Linked DNA regions of Homo sapiens: all the other regions are linked to region 1. The links come from fine-mapping of genetic effects on gene expression. A gene starts in region 1. Each other region holds a variant in brackets. All regions are shown on one strand. Distances are between the middles of the regions.

The links. PIP is the estimated chance that this variant, and not a neighbour inherited with it, causes the effect.
Region 2: its variant is fine-mapped to the expression of ARMH3 in whole blood (TOPMed, PIP above 0.99).
Region 3: its variant is fine-mapped to the expression of ARMH3 in whole blood (TOPMed, PIP above 0.99).
Region 4: its variant is fine-mapped to the expression of ARMH3 in subcutaneous fat (TwinsUK, PIP 0.90).

Annotation. Positions count from the first base shown.
Region 1 is chr10:102,055,140-102,057,639 of GRCh38, reverse strand. It overlaps ARMH3 (armadillo like helical domain containing 3), which reads left to right and starts at 1,467. Exons shown (of 26, transcript NM_024541.3): 1 at 1,467-1,555. RefSeq lists a silencer at 1,378-1,767.
Region 2 is chr10:101,759,608-101,762,350 of GRCh38, reverse strand. All of the region lies in intron 2 of LOC105378458 (a long non-coding RNA gene), which reads left to right. Among named protein-coding and RNA genes, the nearest start is that of FGF8, 15 kb to the left of the region's middle. The variant A/G (reference allele first, on the strand shown) is at 1,177.
Region 3 is chr10:101,736,626-101,739,368 of GRCh38, reverse strand. All of the region lies in intron 3 of LOC105378458 (a long non-coding RNA gene), which reads left to right. Among named protein-coding and RNA genes, the nearest start is that of LINC03046, 7.9 kb to the right of the region's middle. The variant C/T (reference allele first, on the strand shown) is at 1,422.
Region 4 is chr10:101,969,494-101,972,236 of GRCh38, reverse strand. The region is part of intron 20 of ARMH3 (armadillo like helical domain containing 3); the gene reads left to right. Among named protein-coding and RNA genes, the nearest start is that of ARMH3, 85 kb to the left of the region's middle. The variant G/TG (reference allele first, on the strand shown) is at 1,142.

The DNA of each region.
Region 1 (2,500 bases):
AATCACATCTATATTCTATTTCTAATATAGCTATTCTTATTTTAATTATTTTCTTTATTATACTGGAACAGCTTGTGTCTTCGGTCTCTTGACTCGGCACCTGGGTGGCTTGCCGCCCACAGAACTCTTCTCCACTTCTTTTTTGTTTTGAGACGGAGTCTCGCTCTGTCGCCCAGGTTGGAGTGCGATGGCGCGATCTTGGCTCACTGCAACCTTCGCCTCCCAGGTTCAAGCGATTCTCCTGCCTCAGCCTCCCGAGTAGCTGGGATTACAGAGGACTGCCAACACGCCCGGCCATTTTTTGTATTTTTAGTAGAGATGGGGTTTCACCATGTTGGCCAGGCTGGTCTCGAACTCCTGACCTCAGGTGATCCACCCGCCTTTGCCTTCCAAAGTGTTGGGATTACAGGTGTGAGCCACCGCGCCTGGCTTATTTTATTTTTTTTACTTGTTTTTTCTTTTTAATAGTATTCTTGCTGTTATAGCACATCTTTTTAAACCTTCCATTTGTGTATAAAAAAACAGAGACTCAGGCTGGGTGCGGTGGCTCACGCCTGTAATCCCAGCATTTTGGGAGGCAGAGGCGGGTGGATCACCTGAGGCCAGGAGCTTGAGACCAGCCTGGCAACATGGTGAAACCTTGTCTCTACTAAAAAATACAAAAATTAGCCGGGCGTGGTGGTACACTCCTGTAATCCCAGCTACTGGGGAGGCTGAGGCAGGAGACTCTCTTGAACCCGGGAGGCAGAGGTTGCAGTGAGCCGAGATCGCACCACTGCACTCCAGCCTGGGCAATAGAGTGAGACACCATCTCGAAAAAAAAAAAAAAAAAGAAAACAAAGACTCAGAGGCAGGGAGTGGTGGCACGTGCCTGTAATCCCAGCTACCAGAGGCAGAGGCAGGAGGACTGCTTGAGCCTAGGAGGTGGAGGCTGCACTGAGCTGTAATTGTGCCACTGCGGCACTCCAGCCTGGGCAAGGGCAAGATCCTGTCTCAAAAAAAAAAAAAAGGAAAAGAAAAGAAAATAGATTTCTGGCCAAGTTAATAGAGCTTTACACGCTACTTTGCACTTATCAGGCACACACGTATTTGTTGAAAGAATGAGTTTGTTTTCAATCTTTCACGTACAAAGTTGTAATACACATTTGGAAAATATATCTTTCCAAACTTCGCCAGTATTTCTAGAGGATACATGTATTCCTAGAAGTAAAATTGCTGAGGTCAAAGAGTCGGCCATGTTTCGGAAAACTGCTATTGCGACCCAGTAGGCCCTCAATAGACAAGTCCACTGCGAATTTATTTCTCGCGATGCCTTTCGGGAGTTGTAGTCTTTGCGATGCTTGCTGGGAATCGTGGTCTGAGCCGGTCTCAGGAAGCGGGCGTGGACTAACCCATTGCGCGCCGGGCTTTAGGACCCGGCGGGGCGCGGGGACACGGGAAGGGTCGGGGAGGTCGGGAGCGCGCCCGTGAGCCCGGAGCAGCGGCAGCGTCGGTGGCGTCGAGAGCGAGCGGGCCCGGGAACGGCGCGGGTGGTAGAGGAGGAGCCGCGGGCTCGGTAAGCGGCGGCGGCCAGGCCCGGCCCGGTCCTCGAACCTGACCAACCCTGCGGGTCCTGCCATACTAGGCCTTGGCCCCGAGGCGGTTCTGGGGGCGGGGCCTGCGCTGGCCGCGGGGACGACGAGGACGCGAGGGGAGAGGGAGGGAGGACGGCTGCTGAAGCTGCGTATGCCGGGGAGGGCTGGGCCTGGGGGCGGCCGAGCCTAGAGAGAAACGGCTTCGCTCTTCCAGCGGCCGGTCCCTCGGACCACACGGTCCCGGTCACGTCCCTCTCCCGCATCCCTGCGGGGCCTTCTGGCTTCCGAGGTGCTGACCTTTGACCCCGCCAGCTGCCCCGAGAGCTTCCTCTCCTGCTGTTCTTGGTCCTGGGGTGCGGGCGTAGGGCAAGGCACCTCTGAGAATCTCAGGGATAGAGGAAAGCGGGTTTGTGCGAAGTCTTCAGGTGTCCCGGAAGGGCTCCAGTCCTGTCCCTCTCCAGGCTCTGACAGGCTTTAACCCACTCTTCACACGGAATCAGTGAAGCTACTGTGTTTTCTTTGGGTTACTCGGCGAGAGCCCAGGAAAGGAACCTGTTCCCAGGAGGGTATAGGGAAGGAAAAAGTAGAGAGAAACCTGGTCCCCTGGAGAAGGAGAAGCTGAGGCGTGCTGCCCCTGGCGAATGGGGAAGCAGAAACTTGGGCCATACCCAAATGTATGTCACTGGATCATCCGACCCTCCGCAGTTCTTCCTCTCCAGAAAGTTTTTTATTTTATTTTATTTATTTATTTATTTATTTATTTATTTTGAGATGGAGTTTCGCTGTTGTCGCCCAGTCTGGAGTGCAGTTGCCCGATCTCGGCTTACCACAACCTCTGCCTCCGGGGTTCAAGCGATTCTCCTGCCTCAGCCTTGCGCTACCACGCCCAGCTAATTTTATATTTTTGATAGAGACGGGATTTCTCC
Region 2 (2,743 bases), 300 kb after region 1:
GGCTCCTGAGCTGAGTGGCAGAGGGGGTTCCTGAGAAGGGATGAGAGCAGCCCAGGGAGGGAGGGTGGCTGCTAGGGGTGTCCTTAAATGAGGTGTGATGGGTAGATGGGGCTCTGGGAAAAAGAGCTTGACGACAAGGTGAGCCGAGTGACCAAATGGCTAAAGCCACAGCTTTGTGCTGAGTGTGGGGGGCGGTCAGAGCCTAAGCAGGTGGTGTTTAAAGTTGCTATTTTGGCCTGGGCAACCCTGGTATGAGTGTGTACGAGTGTGTGAGGGATGAGAGAGTCTGGTATCGGTGGCAGGCCCTGTGCAAGAACCCGGCCCCAGGAAGCAGGCCCCCATCTGGGCACTTTCATCAGACCAGCGGGGTAGGTAGACAGAGGGAATGGAAAGCAAAGGGGATTTTCCTTGTTTTCACTCCCCCCCACCCCTGGCATTTGCTCTGACACTGCTGTGGCATCCTCCAGGCCTCAGCAGAGTCAGAGAAGGAAGTCAGAGGAATGGCCACAGGGACAGCCAGAAATCAGAAGTGGCTTGGTGTGAGGGTGAGGGGCAAGGGCTTTGGAGTCCAGCAGCCCTGAGCTTGAACCCTGGCTCTGTCACTGCCTGGTCATTTAATCGGGGCAAGTCAGCTCACCTCTCCCAGCCCCCACTTCCTCACCTGCACAACAGGGAATCACTCCACCATAGGAGTTGCCAGGACTGAGTTAAAATGAGTGTGTCGAGTGTCCAGCGGGTACCTTAACAATGCTTCCTAACAGTGATGGTGGCTACTGCCGGGAAGGAATCTGGGAGACGGGGTGGGCCACCTGAGCCAAGTCCCTGGGAGCCCAGGTTTGCACAGTGGCATCATCAGAGAGCCACCGAGGAGCAGAGTCTGTAAGGAGGCTGCTTCCCTGGGGAAACAGCTCTGGCAGCCGAGGGCCTAAGGCAGCCAGGAGGCTGGGAAAGAGGCTGGGCAAGGTCCCTCATGCACACCGAGACTGGCTGGCCTCTCCCCATCCCTTCCACTCATCCAAGCAGGTGTGGCTGCCAAAGGCCCCGGCCCCTGAAGGCCTGGGAGAACTGAGATGGACGGATGATGTGGTGGCTGCAAGGGGATGGTTTCCCTGCTTATCCCGGGGGCCAGTGTGCACGTTCTTGCCTCTCTGTCCCTCAGGCCTGGCTTTGCCTCCC[A/G]CCCCTCTCACTCCAAATAAGCCCAGGCAAATTGGCGAAAAGTCAAGCCTGAGTTGCTGGAGTTGGGAAAAACAGAACAAGAGAGAAGCACTGAGAACACAGCTGACATTCAAGGCTCTGACCTTTCCTCTAGCCAAATGCGAAGGCTTTCCTTTCCCTAGTGCCTTGCGTTGATTCACGAAGGGTTTACTGAGCACTTCCTACATGCCAGGCAGTAGAGTGTTGGGAAGCAATGGTGCACAGGTTGGATAGATCCCTGACTCCTAAGGCCTCCCATGTAGCAGATGGCCATGGTTAGACAGGCCTTCCTGATGAGGAGTGGGGAAGGCTGAGACAGGAAGAGCAGGGTTTGTGTGAAGACGCTGGGGTTTAGGGGATGGGGGCAGGAATGCTGAGTGTGCTGGCCATGGCTGGTTTTTAGGCAGCTGAAAACTGGTGGAAGACAGGACCCTGGGCTGGTTCTGCTGGAGTTCAGCTCCACTTGGCTCAGTCCCAGTTGAATTCCATGCACACTGAGTATTGAATTACTGGAGAGAGCAGGGTGGATGTGGCAAGGTCCCTGCCTTCAGGCTGGCCCATGTATTGGGCTTCCCAGAGTAGTGAACCTGAGTCTACTACACAACATGGCGCAGGTAACACGTGGGTTAGCACCAGGCACTGTGCTTGCGTGGCTCACAAGCGCCTTCACAGAGAAGACAGACGAGAATGGAATTGCTGTAGGATCCTCCGGGAAACTTGTCTTTTCTGAACCTTAATTTCCTCATCTGGAAAGTAAAAGGTTTGAATTAGATTATTTGCTTAAAAATTTTTTTTAGCAACAGAAACTTTTTTCCTGAGCAAAACCTGTATGGAAGCCTGTTTTATAAAATAGACTTAAACAATATTTGCTTTGGATGCCTCAGGGATTGGGGTCCCTTCAGCTTCTTGTGCCTGGTATCTCAACTGCAGCAGGTGGTAAAGGAGATGAAGGGTCTGAACCCTTCAGAACTCTCTTGGGCATCCAGGAGAGGATGATAGCCAGGACCTACCAGAGAAGAGATGGGTGGGCTCCAGGCCGGCTGCCCAGGGTCAGCCCCTGGGCCTCGATGGGAAGGTGCTTCCAGGACAAGGAGCCCAGCTCTGCTCCCTCTCAGAGCACCTGGACTAGTGGGGTTGTTCCCACTGCCTCCCAGAGAGGCTCCTGACTCTTCCTGCACTGACCACTCACACCCAGGGATTATCCCAACCAGAAACTTCCATTTGGAACAAAGCTCCCAGGAATGAAACCCGAGCTGCCACTAAGAGGCTCCCAGGCTAACTGGGAAGTGGCTGGGAAAGGGAGGGAAAACTTGCAAAGCACTGGGAGCCTCAGGGAGGCTGTGAAACCTGAAGACAAACGACCAGCCAGCGGACTGGTGCTGCGGAGCTGCCACCGCCTTCTGCAGAAAGGTCAGGGCTGAGCAGAGTGGGAAAACGGGGGTGGGGGAGAAGTGAACCCCAGGCTTTCTTTGAGGGGAGAGTAATTGGTGCACCTGTGGCTAGGGCCTATATCCCCTGTGAGGCCCTCAGGGCTGCAGTCACTCAAGCT
Region 3 (2,743 bases), 320 kb after region 1:
CAGTTCCTCTGGGCATTAACGCCACTATCAGTGATGGCCTCTGTGCAATATTTGGAGACAGGGGAACTGGTGAATATTTGGAAATGGGAAATCCCAAGTGAGGACTCGATTCACTCCTTTGGAAAAGGCCTCACTGAAGCCTGAGAGCCAGCCATCCTAACCTGTGTCCAGGGACCAAGGACTAGCCCCCAGAGAGGCTGCCCTTGGGGATGAGGGGTTTCCCTGTAGCCCCGGATGCAAATGGTCGGTTGTAACAGTGGCCATCTGTAAGACATGGGCTAGATACCAGGTGATTTATAGGCATTATTTCAATCACCTCACAATAACTGTACAAGGTGGGTGAAGTGATTTGCCCAAAGCCAGTGTTGTTAGGATTCAAACCCAGGCCTGTCTAATGCTGGAAGCTGTGGTACATTTCCATTTTGCCCTTTGATTTTCTGTAAAAGTATAACAGGCATTAAAAGTGAGCCTCTGTTACATGCCAGGTACTCTACTGGGCTTCTTACATATATTATTGAATTGAATCTATGCAGTAATCCTTTTGGAAGGATATTATGAGCTGGACACAGTGGCGCACATCTGTAATCCCAGTTACTCAGGAGGGGAAGATGGGAGGATCCCTTGAGCCCAGGAGTTGGAGGCTGCAGTGCACTATGACTTGCCTGGGAAACAGAGCGAGATCCCATTTCTCTCTCTCACTTTTTAGAGATGGAGTCTTGCTCTGTTGCTCAGGCTGGAGTGCAGTGGTGTGACCGTGGCTCAATGTAATCCTCCTACCTTGGCTTCCCAAGTAGCTGGGACCACACGTGTGTGAACCACACCTAGCTAATTTTTTTCTTTTTCTTTTTCTTTTTTTTTTTTTTTTTTTTTTAGAGATGTGATCTTGCTGTGTTGCCCAGGCTAGTTTTATTTATTTATTTATTTATTTTGAGATGGAGTCTTGCTCTGTCGCCCAGGCCAGAGTGCAGTGGTACGATCTCAGCTCACTGCAAGCTCCGCCTCCCAGGTTCATGTCATTCTCCCGCCTCAGCCTCCCGAGTAGCTGGGACTACAGGTGCCTGCCACCACGCCCAGCTAATTTTTATTTTTAGTGGAGACGGGGTTTTACCATGTTAGCCAGGATGGTCTCGATCTCCTGACCTCGTGATCTGCCCACCTCGGCCTCCCAAAGTGCTGGGATTACAGGCGTGAGCCACCGCGCCGCCCGGCCTGCCCAGGCTAGTTTTAAACTCCTAGCCTCAAGCAATCCTCCCACCTGAGCCTCCCAAAGTGCTGGGATTACAGGCATGAGCTACTGTACCTGACATTTAAAAGACTTTTTTTTTTTTTGTATTTTTTGTAGAGACAGGGTCCCACTATGTTGCCCAGGCTGGTCTCAAACTGCTGGTCTCAAGTGGGCGTCCCTCCTCAGCCTCCCAAAA[C/T]GCTGCAATTACAGGCATGAGCCACCATGCCCAGAGCCATCTCTTTTTAAAAAATAAAGAGAAGCCGGGGGCGGTGGCTCACGCCTGTAATCCCAGCACCTTGGGAGGCCAAAGTGGGCGGATCACCTGAGGTCAGGTGTTCAAGACCAGCCTGGTATACGTGGTGAATCCCCGTCTCTACTAAAAATACAAAAATTAGCCAGGCGTGCTAGTGCATACCTGTAATTGCAGCTATTCAGGAGGCTGAGGCAGGAAAATCACTTCAACCCGGGAGGCAGAGGTTGCAGTGAGCTGAGATTGTGCCACTGCATTCCAGCTTGGCGACAGAGCGAGACTCCATCTCAGCAACAAATAAATAAATAAATAAATAAAGAGAAAAAAATAAGGATATTATGATTTCCCTTTTACAGATGAAGAAGCTGAGGTTTAGAAAAGTCCAGTAATGAGGTTGGGCGCGGTGGCTCACGCCTGTAATCCCAGCACTTTGGGAGGCCAAGGTGGGTGGATTACCTGAGAACCTGAGGTCAGGAGCTCGAGACCAGTCTGACCAACATGGTGAAACCCCATCTCTACTAAAAATACAAAAATTAGCTGGGCCTGGTTGTGGGCACCTGTAATTCCAGCTACTCAGGAGGCTGAGGCAGGAGAAATGCTTGAACCTGAGAGGCGGAGGTTGCAGTGAGCCAAGATCTCGCCATTGCACTCCAGCCTGGGAGGCAGAGCGAGACTCCGTCTCAAAAAAAAAAAAAAAAAAAAAAAAAAGAAAGAAAGAAAGAGACAGAAAAGGCCAGTAATTTACCCAAGGTTGCATACTCTGTAAAAAGGAATAACAAAATTCACATTGGAATTTATTGACTCCTAAATGCATGCACTGTCTTCTACCCCGTGTCAGGGGCCAAAGTTTTCAATTTGGATTGAGGATTTGGACCAGTGCTGGCTTTAACCCAGCAAGCACTTGTTTAGGGAACAGGTAAGAGCTCAGATTTGTCTGAACTTCCCTCAGGACCCCAGGTTCTTGCTTTGACACCCACTATGGGGTAAACCAGAGCAAAGCCCTGAGAGGAGGCAGCTGTTCCTCTTTCTGCAAGAGGGTCACAAGGAATCTCTGCGATGTTGCCATTGTTGTGCTTTAGTCCCCCCATCCTGTGCATCTAGGTCCTGCTGAGTCTTTGGCTCTCTTGATTTTGTTTAAAAGAAAAATACCCCATGCCACAGACTCACAGGGGTGGAAAGGACTTTGAAGGAGAGTTATTAGTACAACCTTCCATCTGATGCTTCACGGTGCCCCAGTTTCTTCCTCTGTCTCTCAAGATTTCACAAGG
Region 4 (2,743 bases), 86 kb after region 1:
TGTTATTATTGGGGAGGTAGCCAGAGGTCTCCAGATTCCCATAATGAATTTACAGGTGTGATCTTATGGACAAGGAGGAGTCAGCTGTATTAGTTGGGGGTTCAATCTTGCCTGATAAGCTTTTCCTAGTTGGTTTTACAGATACGAGCCCTGATCTACTCCCTGCTGCCACTGTCTGTTTCTATGATGCATGTCACCATGATATCTGAGTATGTATGAAAATATATTTAGGCTAATTTTAACTAGAATATGGAAAGGAAAAAGTTCTATTGCTCTGCATTGCTCTGTTTTCAGCAATCACTGTTTTTCACCACATATAGAAAGTTTGAAAGCTCTTCTCTGATGTCTAGGCAACCCAGATCTCCCAGTCTGAGTAAAAGATTAGATCTTAAAACTCTCCACTGATAGAGGTAGAAAACTGGGTTTTGGGATAAGATCATACTGAAATAGTTCTTTACTTTTGAGAATAGAATGAAAGCTACAGTCATCTTTGTATTCAGAAAAAATGTCCATTTGCACATATATATTTTGCATATAGTTTCACAGAGTTTCTGGATCCTCTGAAGCCCCTTGTGTCAAAAACCTCTGTCTTAATTTTAAGTTCCACAGCCTCCCAATTAATCCTGTTCTCACAGAAATCTTAGTATCTAGGTAAATTATTTTATTTTATTTTATTTTATTTTTTTGAGAAAGAGTCTCACTCTGTTGCCTAAGCTGGAGAGCAGTGGTGTGATTGCGGGTTCAAACAATCCTCCCACCTCAGCTCCTGCCCCAAGTAGCTGGGACTTAAAGGCACACACCATTATGCCTGGCTAACTTTTGTAAAGATGGAGTTTTACCATGTTGGCCAAGCTGGCCTCAAATTTCTGACCTTAGGTGATCTGCCCTCCTCTGTCTCCCAAAGTGCTGGGATTACAGGTGTGAGCCACTGCGCCCGGCCAGTATTTTTTCTTTATTTACTAGTCACACTGCGCTCCTACTGGGAACTTTAGGTTAGCAATCTCCTTTGCACTTCTTGAGGCTATAGACCATTTTGTTCACTATGTCTTATTTTTGGAGTGTTTTCTATAGCATATTGGGCCCCTATTTTAGTGTATCACATTGTTTTGCTATGTTTGCTTTTTTTTTTTTTTTTTTTTTT[G/TG]GAGACGGTCTCACTCTGTTGCCCAGGCTGGAGTGCAGTGCCACAGTCTCAGCTCACTGCAACCTCTGTCTCCTGGGCTCAAGTGATCCTCCCAACTCAGCCTCCTGAGCAGGTGGGACCATAGATGCAAGCCACCATGCCCCAGCTAATTTCATATGTTTTTACAATGATTTGTTTAAATATCTATATTTCCTCTCAAAAAAGTTCCTGGAGGGCAGGGCCTGTTTTTTAATCATTGTTACATCTCCAGCAGACTGCTTGGCTATTTATTTATTTTTTGAGACAGGGTCTTGCCCAGGCTGGAGTGCAGCGGCACAATCATGGCTCATTGTAGTCGCGACCTCCTGGGCCCAATGGATCCTCCCACCTCAGCCGCCCAAGTAGCTGGGACTACAGATGCGTACTACCATGCCTGGCTTATTTTTGTATTTTTTTTTTTAGAGATGGGGTTTCATCATGTTGCCCAGGCTGGTCTTGAAGTCCTGGACTCAAGTGATCTGCCTGCTTTGGCCTCCCAAATTGTTGGGATTATAGGCATGTGCCACAGCACCCGGCCTACTTAGCTTTTTAATAGGAACTCAGATAACATTTGGATGAACAAATAAATGGATGAATGGATATGTAAGATTTTCATTAATGATGGATCAACATTCTCCAAAAGCAGCACAATGTTGTGTTTGAGCCGAATAATAATAATAATAGAACCCAGTAGGATGTTGTTAATGTTTCTGTTGAGCTGACATCATCACCTTTGATAGGGCCAGCCATCCACCTTAGTTTATTTGATTTGTTGATGTGAGAGAGAGTAGTTAGTAATTTCTTTTGTTTTTCTCATTCTTCCTTACCCACAGGTGCATGGATTGCTTTTAACCAAGTAAAAATGGAAACTTTGATGGTTTCTAAGCCATTAAGCAAAGATTGAGCAGGATGTGCAGAGAGAAGTGTGTAGTTGTTGGAGAGAGAAATACTTGAACAGAGCTTCATGGAGTCAGCTTATTTTACTTCCACTGCAGGAAGAAGGGGCATTGGAGAGGCAGGCTGCATTTAAATAGTATGACTTTCCATCGTCTGAAAACATGGGTTGTTTTAAAGGCAGATTTATACTGACATTTTATATTCAACATTTATCTATGGATCACAGTTGTTACCCTCTCACTCTGCCACATCCCGGTGATAAGTCGTTATTTTTATCCCCATTTGTTGGGGAAGGGAGTAGAGATATAGAAGGGTTAAGTGACTTGCTAAGGATCATGGAACCAGACGCTAAACAGAGTCATGATTAGAACTTAGAGTTCCTGACTCCTATGCTCAGACACAGATCACTAAGCAACATTTGCTTGCCTGCAGGAAGAAAGGCCCCCTAAGCCCCCAGAACAATCTGTTCAGCTTCACTGTGCTAAGTAACATCCAAAGCATTCACAGCTTTGTGAAAAAGAAATTGTACATGGCCTGACCTTTTAGATATCTACTGGGAAAAATGGAAAACCCAGGGAGTATCACAGCGTTCTGGATCCAGCTGGCTCTCCTATTACTGGCAGAGGCCTATGACTTCTTGGTTAGGTACATCTCAAGACTGGCAATTGAGAGCCTTTCGTTGGAAGC